Regions from separate parts of the Homo sapiens genome. Here regions 2 and 3 are each reported to be linked to region 1. The links are microRNA targets in miRTarBase. Many come from high-throughput screens and were not tested one by one. Region 1 holds a microRNA gene; each other region holds the end of a gene's coding sequence. Distances are between the middles of the regions.
What was found. The annotated mature microRNA hsa-miR-203a-3p reads GUGAAAUGUUUAGGACCACUAG and lies in region 1 at 1,582-1,603, opposite strand. An mRNA with a match to its seed (bases 2 to 7 or 8) in the 3' UTR can be bound and repressed. Matches are read on the target gene's strand: a 7mer-m8 pairs with bases 2 to 8, a 7mer-A1 pairs with bases 2 to 7 and ends in A, and an 8mer does both.

Region 1 (4,343 bases):
TCTGCTTCTCTGAGATTAGAAGGAAAAGGCTGGCTTGCTTTCAAGGGAGAAACCACGCTGAGGCCTGGGGGAAAAGGACAAGCACCCCAGGGACACAGCGATGCTTTGGAACATGTTTATTGTCATCAGTCTAAATTGTACAGACGCACACCGGACAGAATGCCTCCAAGCCGCAGAACAGGGACACAGCCGCCATCTCCCACCTGAGCCTCAGCCCCTCTCACGGGGCTGCTGAGGGCTGAGGGCCCATGCAGAGGGCACGGGGGAACGTGCTTGTAAAATGAAATGGCTACAGGGGGCTGCGGTGGTCAGCAGGCAGCAGCTGGGGAAGACACTCCAACCCCTCCGATGCCACAGACCCACTGGGCGCTCCCACGGCCCCAAGCTCTGAAGCCAGATCCTGAGAGGTGGCCACAATGGCATTTGCTGAGCAACAGAGGAGGCACTGGCCAGTGGTGGATGCTCTCCCGGGAACTCCACTCCCCCCACCTGGGTGGCCAGGGGACCTTGCTGTCCTGCTGCTGGCCCTCTTCTGGAACAGCCCTCCACAGTCACCTCCTGTCTCCTCACATCAACCCCCTATGTGTGCAGGTCGGGCTCAGAGAGGGCAGGTGACTGGCCCAAGGCCACCCTAGCAGGCCTCAAACCCAGGCCTGTCTGACCCATCTCCCAGGACTCCCCGCAGCTCTCTAAACACTGGGTGAGGAGGTGGGGACTGGAGGGGGACCCTCCACCCCAGAGGACACAGCAGGCCAGGCAGCACCAGGCAGAAGACCCCGGCCCCTGGCTGGAGGTGGGGACAGATTCGACCCTTTGCTGAGTCCCTCCCAGGGCCGCCCGGGGCTTCACACGCAGATTGACGCGCACACCTCTCCTGTGGGCGCTAGCTACCACGAGGTTCCAGGGAGGCTCCGGCGAAGGCACCTGTCATCATGGGCGCCGCTTCTCCTCTACCTGGGTGTAGTCTGCAAACTTCCTCCCCACCCCCAGTTCCTGTGCCTCGAGGTCCTTCACGAGTTTAGCGCGCACTCGTAGGAGCCGCGCAGCGCTCCCTAAGGCCTCAGTGAGTGGAGACGCTCCGGGGAGCCGGCAGCGGGAACCATCGGCCGCCCAGCAGGGTGCGGCTGCCGGCAGCCTGATGGGCAGCTCCCAGGAAGCCCAGGGCAAGGAGCGCTCCTCAACCCTACGGGCCCACCGCCAGTTCCTCGCTGGGAATTCCACGGAGTTTCGAGGTGCGGGCCCTCGGGGTGCAAGAGGGCGGCGGCGGCGTCTCCAGGCCGGCAGCGCGCCAGGAGCGTGGGCAACCCAGCGCGCCCCCACCCAGCGGTTCCCACAGCACAGCCCGGCCACGCCCGGCCACCTCCCAGCAGCACTTGGCTCTCCGGCCGAGGGTCTTCCCTGGCAGCAGGTGGAGCCAGCCAGGCCCTGGGGACTGCGGGGCGCGGCGCATGGGGCGGCCGACCTGGAGCGCGGAGCCGGTCCGTGGGCTCCCCTGGATTGGTCGCCGGCGCACCCCTGACTGTGACTCTGACTCCAGGCCGCGCGTGGGACGCTCCGTCGCTGTCGCCGCGCCCGCCGGGTCTAGTGGTCCTAAACATTTCACAATTGCGCTACAGAACTGTTGAACTGTTAAGAACCACTGGACCCAGCGCGCGAGTCCCCAACACCGTCGGTTCGCCGAGCTGCGGAGAGAGGAGCCCCCGACGCCCTTGGGACCGCCCGCGTCGCCTGCGGATCCCGGGGACCGGCCCCTGCGCCCAGATCCCCGCTGGTCGCGCACCCCCTGCCCTGCTGCAGCCACCCGGCCCCGACGCCGTACCGGACGCCTTAGACGCCCTCGCCTGGCGCTGGGGGATCCCAGCCGCCAAGCCCAGCCCCGCCGCGTCCTCGCTGGCCCCGGCGTCCCCTCGTCCCGCGGGCCCCGCGTGGCAGGGCGGCTGAGCTCCGAGCGGCGGTGGCCAGCGCGGCGGCGCCTTTTATGCGGCGCAGCCGCCCTTCCCGGCGCCGGAATGTGCCCGCGCCGCGCTGGCCCGACCGGTTTTTCCGGGCGGGGCGGCTCCCGGGCCCATAGGTCCCGCGACTGATCCTCCACGGCCCGGGGACCTGCTCCGCGCGCCCGCGCGGGGGTGGCCCTGACTCAGCGGCCGCCCCGCCCCATCCGGCGCCCCAGCCTCCAGCGCCTGGCCTGGGCGCACCTGGCCTCCCGGGTTCTGGGTCCCCGCCGGGCCACGCCCGAACCGTCTCGTCTGGGCCGGGGGTGCTCGGGCGCACGGAGGGCCCGGGGCTCCACCTTGGCCGGGTCGAGGCCCAGGGTGGCCGGAACAGGTGAGGACCAGCGCCCGACAGGAGCCCAGGGCCGCGCTAGCTCTCCGGTGGGTGTGGGGGCTGGGCTGGACACACCCACCCCAGCCCCTCTCACTTCAAAGGGAACTTCGTGGGAGGGGGAAGGGGAGGGGTAAAGAGAAAGTGAAACTGGAGGGAGGGAGGTTTCTGCTTCTCAGACCCTGAACCCCCACCCCGCAGCCCACAGGGGTAGCCCCGTACCTGCCTCCTCATTTCCCACGCGGGGGGAGGGACGCCCTACCCCCTCACGCAGCAAGGGCCTGAGCCTCGCTCCCCCCACTCACAGCCCAGCCCCGAACGTCCTGGCGCAGCTGGCCCTGCCGGTCCTACCCACTTAGTCACCTGGAGGTGTCCAGGCCTGACCAGTGGCGCCTCCCAGGGACTCTGCTTCAGCAGAACATGGCAGCTGAGGGGAGGGCTCAGGCTCTAGGAAATACCCTAGAGCCCCCTTCAGCACTTGCCCCAAGTCTGGAGCCATTAGTGTGTCTGTATGGGGTTGGGCAGCAGGGTGGTGACCATTCATTCCAGTGCAGGGCGGTGACACGCCATCCCACCACCCGCCCAGCCAGCCAGGAGCCAAGTGCTCAGGAGCCAAGGTGAGCCCCAGACCAGAACACAGCCACCAGATCTGAGGGACCCCCCAGACATTTCCACATGGGCCGCGTGTGGCTCAACCACCGCAGCCACCCTGGAAAGGGAATCAGAAAGGTTTTGTTATTTTCATTTTGCAGTTGGGGAAACTGAGGCTCAGGGAGGGACAGTGACTTCTGGGGATTGCACAGCTCTTGGTGGTAGAGAAGGGATGACAGGCCTTGCCATCGCTGCATCTGTGGGTCTCAGTGCCTGGGTGTGGAGTCCGAGGGGCTGCGGCATGGGGGTGGGGATGGAAGTGGGCATAGGGGAGCTTGAGATCAAGAACAGGAGCTTGGGAGCTCCTCCCCCAACACAACTGCATGGGCAAGAAGAACCCACCTCTCTTCTTTTCTTTTTTTTTTTCTTTTTTTTTGAGACCTAGTCTTGCTGTGTTGCCCAGGCTGGAGTGCAGTGGTGCGATCTTGGCTCGCTGCAACCTCCATCTTCCCAGTTCAAGCGATTCTCCCACCTCAGCCTCCCAAGTAGCTGGGACCACAGACACAAACCACCACACCTGGCTAATGTTTTTATTTATTTTTTAAGAGACAGAGTTTCGCCATGTTGGCTGTTCTCAAACTCCTAGGCTCAAGCTATCCACCCGCCTCGGCCTCCCAAAGTGCTGGGATTGCAGGTGTGAGCCACCAAGCCTGGCCACCACTCCTTAATTCTAAGTTCTGGTCTAGCCCAGTCCTGGGCAGACTCTTCCCGACGCACAGCCACTTGGATGGGCTCCCCTCGCCCAGGTGGCTCCCGTGTCCAGCATCCAAGGGAACTGACGAGAGAGGACGGGGAGAAGGTGACAAGTACAAGCACCTGCAGTTCCCACCAGCAGCAGGAAATATTGAGGTGTGACCAGAAGGGGAACTTCCTAGCATACACGAGAAATCTGGTTACCTCCAGCTGGGGAAGGGCGGTCCTGGAGGGCCCTCAGCTGAGGAGTCTGATTTTAGGATAGAAAATGCTGGTGAAAAAGACAGTAGTCGTGATGGAGAGGAGATGTTCCCCAGAGATAGCCCTGGGATCCAGGTGATTCGAGATGGGCTATAGGAACCAAGGCCTCCCCCAGCGTGAAATTACCAGGTGTGAGCGGCGCCACCCCACTGTGGGGAGGCGGGTCCCACGGGCACTGGGCACCTGGCTGTGCCTCATTCCTGAGTCTCCCACAGCCTCACACCACAGCAAGAGACAAGGCGGCCCTGATTCACAGCCCAGCTCTGCCCTGTGCCAACGCAGAGCCCTGGGCGCAGGACGGGGCCACTCTGTGCCTTAGCTTCCTCAGCCATGAAGTAGGATAGACGGGGACCCGGTGCCCTCCTACAGGCACAGTGGGGACGAAACACACCAACGCGGCGCAGGACACGAACGCT
Region 2 (3,000 bases), not on the chromosome of region 1:
AACCTCTGCTTATTTTACCCTTTTAACTACCACATGATGCTTTGATTTTAAATGAAAAAAATATATCTGTTTTCCAAAAAAGATTACAAAGTGAGTACTTTGTTTTAGGGTTCATATTTATTTTCCAATTACTTTTATTGATCTTACAGAATAGTGTCTTGGTCTCTCTACTGCATTCAACAACACCAAAAATCTACAACGCTGGTGTCAACAGCAATAATTACTAAAAATTGAGCAAGCAATTTATGACTATCCGCAATTATGGAAAATGGATTCAAAAGGCATCTGCTGCAATAACAATAGTATTTATGTGTGTTAAGACACAAAAAGCCAACATAACTTTAGTACCTCAGGCATTTTTCTAATTGTGATATTTATACAAATTTTGGAAATTGATGAGTACACTGACCAGTCACCGATAATCATGAAAAAGAAAATACACATAAGTGCCTATTTAGCTAATACTGTGTTTAACTCTAGCTTGACATTGTGTGATACTGTAATCCCTTTCAAAGCACTGGAAATCACTCACATTTGCCTCAAGCTTTTTTTTAAAACAGAAGAATAATCTGATGAAGATGCCCTTATTTCAGAAACTGAGGTCATTACTATCTTTGCTTGAAACATTTTAGAAGAGTTGCTGAACAAAAAGAACACTCAATCTTAGTCTACTGGATAAACAGCGACATCTAGTGGTCATTGTATCCCTAAACAAACACCTTAAAAGCACAAACTCAAGTATCCATGAAATATATGAAATTGCCACTATCTTTAACGTATTTCCAAAGAAACTGTACAAGGAAATTATAAACACATTCTAGAAAGATTCCCTATGATTCAGGAATAATATAAATTGAAGGAAAAGTTAACCATGGACTTCTAATTTTTATTCTTAACAACTTTTTCATAGGTAAATATCCTTCAGAGGTTTTTATAAAAATCCAATTCTTATTTCTTCACGACTCAGTTCTTGTTTCTAACAGAGTGACATAAAGAACTCAAACACTATGAACTAATGAATAATAACTTCTATGGCTCTAATGAATACATGGATTGGTATGTCCCAGCAACAGATTCAGACACTCCATATGACAACACACTCATGTGCAAATTTTAAATGTTATAAAAGCTGCTACTCAATTATTGTTTGACTGAGTTTACTCTGGAGGTTTTATTAATTTTTTTGTAAATCGGGAACATATAGTTCATCAAGGTTTTCTAATACAACTAGGTCATGAAATGGAATTACAGCATCAAAATAGAATTAAAAAATCATTTTGCCATCAAAAAGTCATTGTTTCCTAGGTATGACTTTCCTATTAATGATAAAGTTAGTACATTCTTTGGCTACTGTTGTTCACTGGGACCTCGGCACATCATCTCTATGCCTGCTACCCACCAGACACCAGAAATGGCTTCTAAGGCCTTCATGGCCAGCTCCAGGGAAACTGTCTTCCTGTCACCATGAAAGACTTTTTCTGAGCACAAACCATTTGTTGCAGTTCCAAGGTTATTCATGGGACACACCGAGACTGTCCCTTCCACATGAACTGAGGTATCCCCCCCAAATCCCTTAAACATACATCAGTGAATACAGGTATGCATCACTATCTACCCATTTAATTCATCTTCCCTAGATTAACTGCCAAGTGCTAAGACTAGACCTTTCTAACAAGTCTTTGTTGATGATCATAAACAGATGAAAGATCTGGACAACAATTTTTGTGTTTACAGACCAGCCTCCCCAAACGAAGAATGAACATATTTGGTGCTCCCAGATCATCAAAATACCCACTACCCAGCCAATACCTAGACATGCTAGTGATTAGCTGGGACATTCACCTAAATGCCACTTATGTGTATGAAGAGGGCTACAGATGCCACCCTTTCTACCTCCCACTGACTGGACATGACCATCCAGAGGAATGGTATCTCACAGGCACCATCTAAAACAGTAAGGAACCATTACCACTTGGTAATTCAAATTGCGGACCATCTGAAATGGTAAGGAATCATCTTAATATCACTTAAGACTTTTACAGAAATGCTAGGCAGATGTGTTCCAATGAGCATCAAATTTCTAGTATATAAGCACTTAATCTTACTAAAGCAATGTGTGTGATTCATAAGCATTTAAAATTAACACTGAGGTCAAAGTATACATATAAAGCCTGGGGTTCTCTCCAGCCCACTATCCCCAGTGATTCCCTAGTCCTCTCCTAAGAGTTCTCAATTACAGAAGTGTATGTGTGGGCAGTAGCCACAAGTAACTAAATGTGAGGTTTACCAATGAGACAGGCAGCCATGAACGTTGGAGGCACCCGAAGCTTACTTTCTATTGCTCTACCCTATACAGACTTCATTCTCTCATTTTTCCTTCTCTTATCTCTTTGCCTTCCTATTTCTGCCTGGAGCTGGCAGTTGTAGAATAAAGCAATTTTGTGTCCTATTGCTACCTGAACCCCTGTGTTGTGTAACAAAGATGACTTCTGAATTTTAGGAAAAAATACTGCTAACTACTCAATAAGACAGACTCAGAGAGCCACGGGCAATCACAGGGTCTAGCTAAATGCTTGGATGAGCTGCCACGACAAGATCCCAACAAACCTAGAAATAATTTGGTCTGGGTCTAAATGCTAATATCATGCTGCCAAGCCTCTTTCTGAAAAGCATAAAAGCAAAATATCCCACTCCTGCAAGCAAACCAACCACAAGGGTCGTGCCAAGAACTTTTGGGGCCCTTTTCTTGGCCACCCGGAATGCTGTTGGCAGCACTGCAGAGATTAATATATTGTTGACATGTCCTAAAACCTTGTTAAATGTTTTTCTCTTCAAGACACGCTCGTAATAGGTTTCCAAGTTTGGTCGCTTTCCGTTTCCCCAGTTTCTCCTTGCAAACCCCAGGAACTTCAGTCGATGCAATGTGACAGCGAGTGAGACGTCTGCCAGGGTGAAGGATTCACCGCAGAGCCAAGGTTGCTGGCCCTCTTCTAATTAGAG
Region 3 (3,000 bases), 54 Mb from region 1:
ATGCAATCTGAATTTATAAAAGAAAAAAGTGCTACTTGTTCAAATGAGGAAAAAGATAACTTAAACGAGTCAGTAATAACTGAAGAGAAAGAAACAGATGGAGATCACCTATCTTCATTACTGAACAAAACTACGGTTCACAATATACCTGGATTCGACAGCATAAAAGAAACCAATATGCAGGATGGTAGTGTGCAGGTCATTAAAGATCATGTGACCAATTGTGCATTCAGTTTTCAGAATTCTTTGCTATATGATTTGGATTAATTCTATATAATTTTGGACTTTTAAATATTAAGGTTAAAAAATACCTGTATCTAAAATTGATTCTGTTAACTGTTGTCTTAAAACTAAAGGTATTAAAGTATAAAATTAAAATTTGCAATTTTTTTTAAAAAATTGCAATTTTGATTCTCATGGGGGAAATTGGAGATAATTTTTTTTTTTTTGCCTCTGGAGTTTAAAGTTTCCTTATGGAGATAAGTTTTGTGATTCCTGTAATAGATGTGTATGTTTTCTATTTGAGAGTTAAAACATTTGAGAGTTAAAACATTTAGTTTTAATACAACCTATGTATATATACTTCTGTGTTAAATTTTGCTTTGTCATTAATAAAATTTAAAAATATTCACTAATTGTGTTTGTCACACAAAGTAATTCTCAAGAATGCATTTAACTGGAATTATAAGTACATGTGTGGGGGGTAGAATTTCAAAACTGTTTCTCAGTCTCACTAAGTAGGACATATTTAAGCTTGAAATAGAGCTTAGAGGGGAAAGAACTTTACTAACCAATATTAATCTAAACAATTACGATACAAATTCACCAGATAAAATGTAGTACTTTTCATCAGCTCTATATTTTGTCACACAAACTATATATATTTTTGTTACATAAAGTATATATAATAGATTTAGTTATTTAGTAATGATTTTCAAAATTCAATTTTGAAGTATTTCTTAGAAGTTATTGAAATATTAAAACATCTTGTGGTTTTATAGAAATTTAAGAGTAAAACTGGAATTTTTAAAATCTGGCAATTTGCTCTGATAGGAAAATTGCCTTCATTACATTATTACACAGAAAAACAAAAAAAAGCCAGTGTTTCCTAATCACTTTCTTTTTTTTTAAGAGATGGGTCTTGCTATGTTGTCCAGACTGGATTCAAACTCTTAGGCTCAAGTGATCCTCTCATCTCAGCCTCCTGCATAATCAATTTCCTTTATAACACCTAAAATGTGAGGCAAAGAGAAGATCCTAACAGGTTTTTTTCTTACAAAAAATTTTAGGGCAGCCAAAGAAAATGAAAGGAAGGAAATACAGAAAGGGAAATATTTGTTGATTTAATCACTAACCCCAAAGCCAGGAGCTGATCTATTTGTTTCAAAAACAGCTACTACTTCACACTCTGGCCTTCTTAGCTCAGTCCTGGAAATAACCTAATTTTTTAGTTCTTTGAACTAGTGATGTCAGGTCAGAGTACCAGAAATAGGTACAAAGCCTCCTGATTCACCCTTATTTATAACCCCCAGGCAAAATCTTGCACCAGACTGGGCCGTGGGTAAGTCTAAAGGTAGCTCGTAAAGCAAGAGAACTATTTGCCTCACCTTAGATAAGCATATGTGCTCTTAAACTACTATGAATCTTAAATTGATGCAATAATTTTGAGACTGCCATTTAATAGTTACAAGTTTAAGTAACTTTTTTTTTTTTTCTTTAGATGGAGCCTTGCTCTGTTGCTCAGGCTGGCGTGCAGTGGCACGCTCTAGGCTCACTGCAACCTCTGCCTCGAGACTCAAAGGATCCTCCCACCTCAGCCTCTCAAGTAGCTGGGACTACAGATGCACCACTACACCCGGCTAATTTTTTGTATTTTTAGTAGAGATGGGTTTTCGCCATGTTGCCCAGGCTGGTCTCAAACTCTTGAGTTCAAGCAATCTGCCTGCCTCAACCTCCCAGAGTGCTGGGATTACAGACATGAGCCACCACACCCAGCCCGTAATATCTTTACACAGAAATTAGTCTTTTATGAGAAATTCTCGGTTGAATGCAATTACAAATTAAGGGAAACTTCTATAAACGTCTACATTAAATATGGAGCAAAATTTAAGCCTGTTTCCTATAATTTTCTGTATCTGTCCTTTTAAAACGTATGATTTAAGTTAAAGCTGGCACTAGAAAGTATTTCACTTTGGCATGACTGAACTTTGTATCATTTCTGGCTTTCAAAAACAATTTAGGCTGTATTTCCCTTACACAGCAACTTTTTATCATTCATTTTCAATGCCTGGGTAATTTGAAAGCCAAACAGTTTCTTGCACAGGGAATGCATTGTCATAAGCTGGGTTTTATTTCAAACTCAATTATACAATGTAGCAATAGTAAATATTAAAATGTAATGCTAACTCAAAACTTGTAGAATGCCTTCACTGAATTTTGGTATAAAGAGTAAACAAAACTTATTCTGCAAAAGGATTAGGAACCTTTTTATGCAAAAATGAGTATTTTATTTTGTCAGCACTAAAAGAAAAAAAAAAACAAAACCACTGTATTTCTACATTGAGGTGAAAACAATGTTTAAACTTTCTTATCAATCAAATACATTCCAAAAGAAAGTGTGTTCTATGAAGGTTCCAAAACACACTCAAAACACAATAGTACAGGAATCTAATACTGAAAATGACTGTTCTGACAGGGTGTTTAACAAACATAACTTTTAAATTATTAAACCAGTGAAGCAATCCCTTCCTAATAAGTGTGTCAAGAGAGTGAAACTGGGTTTGTTCCATTAATACCCTAACAATTTCATCGTAATACTTTTTACTGCTATGACAGTTTTAAATAAATTTTGCTGTACTTAAAATAGGTTTTGAAAGTGGAAAAGTGTACAAAGTTTCAGATAAAAAGATTAATAAATGCAATTTAAATAAAATTTCCCCTCTTCTCTCATATCAACAATAATCAATTTTAGCAGATAACAGATTGAGCTTTAAAACCCTA

Region 2: miRTarBase lists GDAP1 as a target of hsa-miR-203a-3p. Seed matches in the 3' UTR shown: 7mer-m8 at 1,998-2,004 and 7mer-m8 at 1,236-1,242.
Region 3: miRTarBase lists DNAAF2 as a target of hsa-miR-203a-3p. The part of its 3' UTR that is shown has no 7-base or 8-base seed match.

Annotation. Positions count from the first base shown.
Region 1 is chr14:104,114,729-104,119,071 of GRCh38, reverse strand. MIR203A (microRNA 203a) reads right to left here and starts at 1,667; the gene lies at 1,558-1,667. It overlaps ASPG (asparaginase), which reads right to left. Exons shown (of 16, transcript NM_001080464.3): 16 at 3,490-4,343. MIR203B (microRNA 203b) reads left to right here and starts at 1,569; the gene lies at 1,569-1,654.
Region 2 is chr8:74,363,975-74,366,974 of GRCh38, reverse strand. GDAP1 (ganglioside induced differentiation associated protein 1) reads right to left here. Exons shown (of 6, transcript NM_018972.4): 6 at 99-2,990. The coding sequence ends at 2,608. Among named protein-coding and RNA genes, the nearest start is that of GDAP1, 15 kb to the right of the region's middle.
Region 3 is chr14:49,622,809-49,625,808 of GRCh38, reverse strand. DNAAF2 (dynein axonemal assembly factor 2) reads left to right here. Exons shown (of 3, transcript NM_018139.3): 3 at 1-635. The coding sequence ends at 267. It overlaps MGAT2 (alpha-1,6-mannosyl-glycoprotein 2-beta-N-acetylglucosaminyltransferase), which reads right to left. Exons shown (of 1, transcript NM_002408.4): 1 at 2,328-3,000. Among named protein-coding and RNA genes, the nearest start is that of MGAT2, 3.5 kb to the right of the region's middle.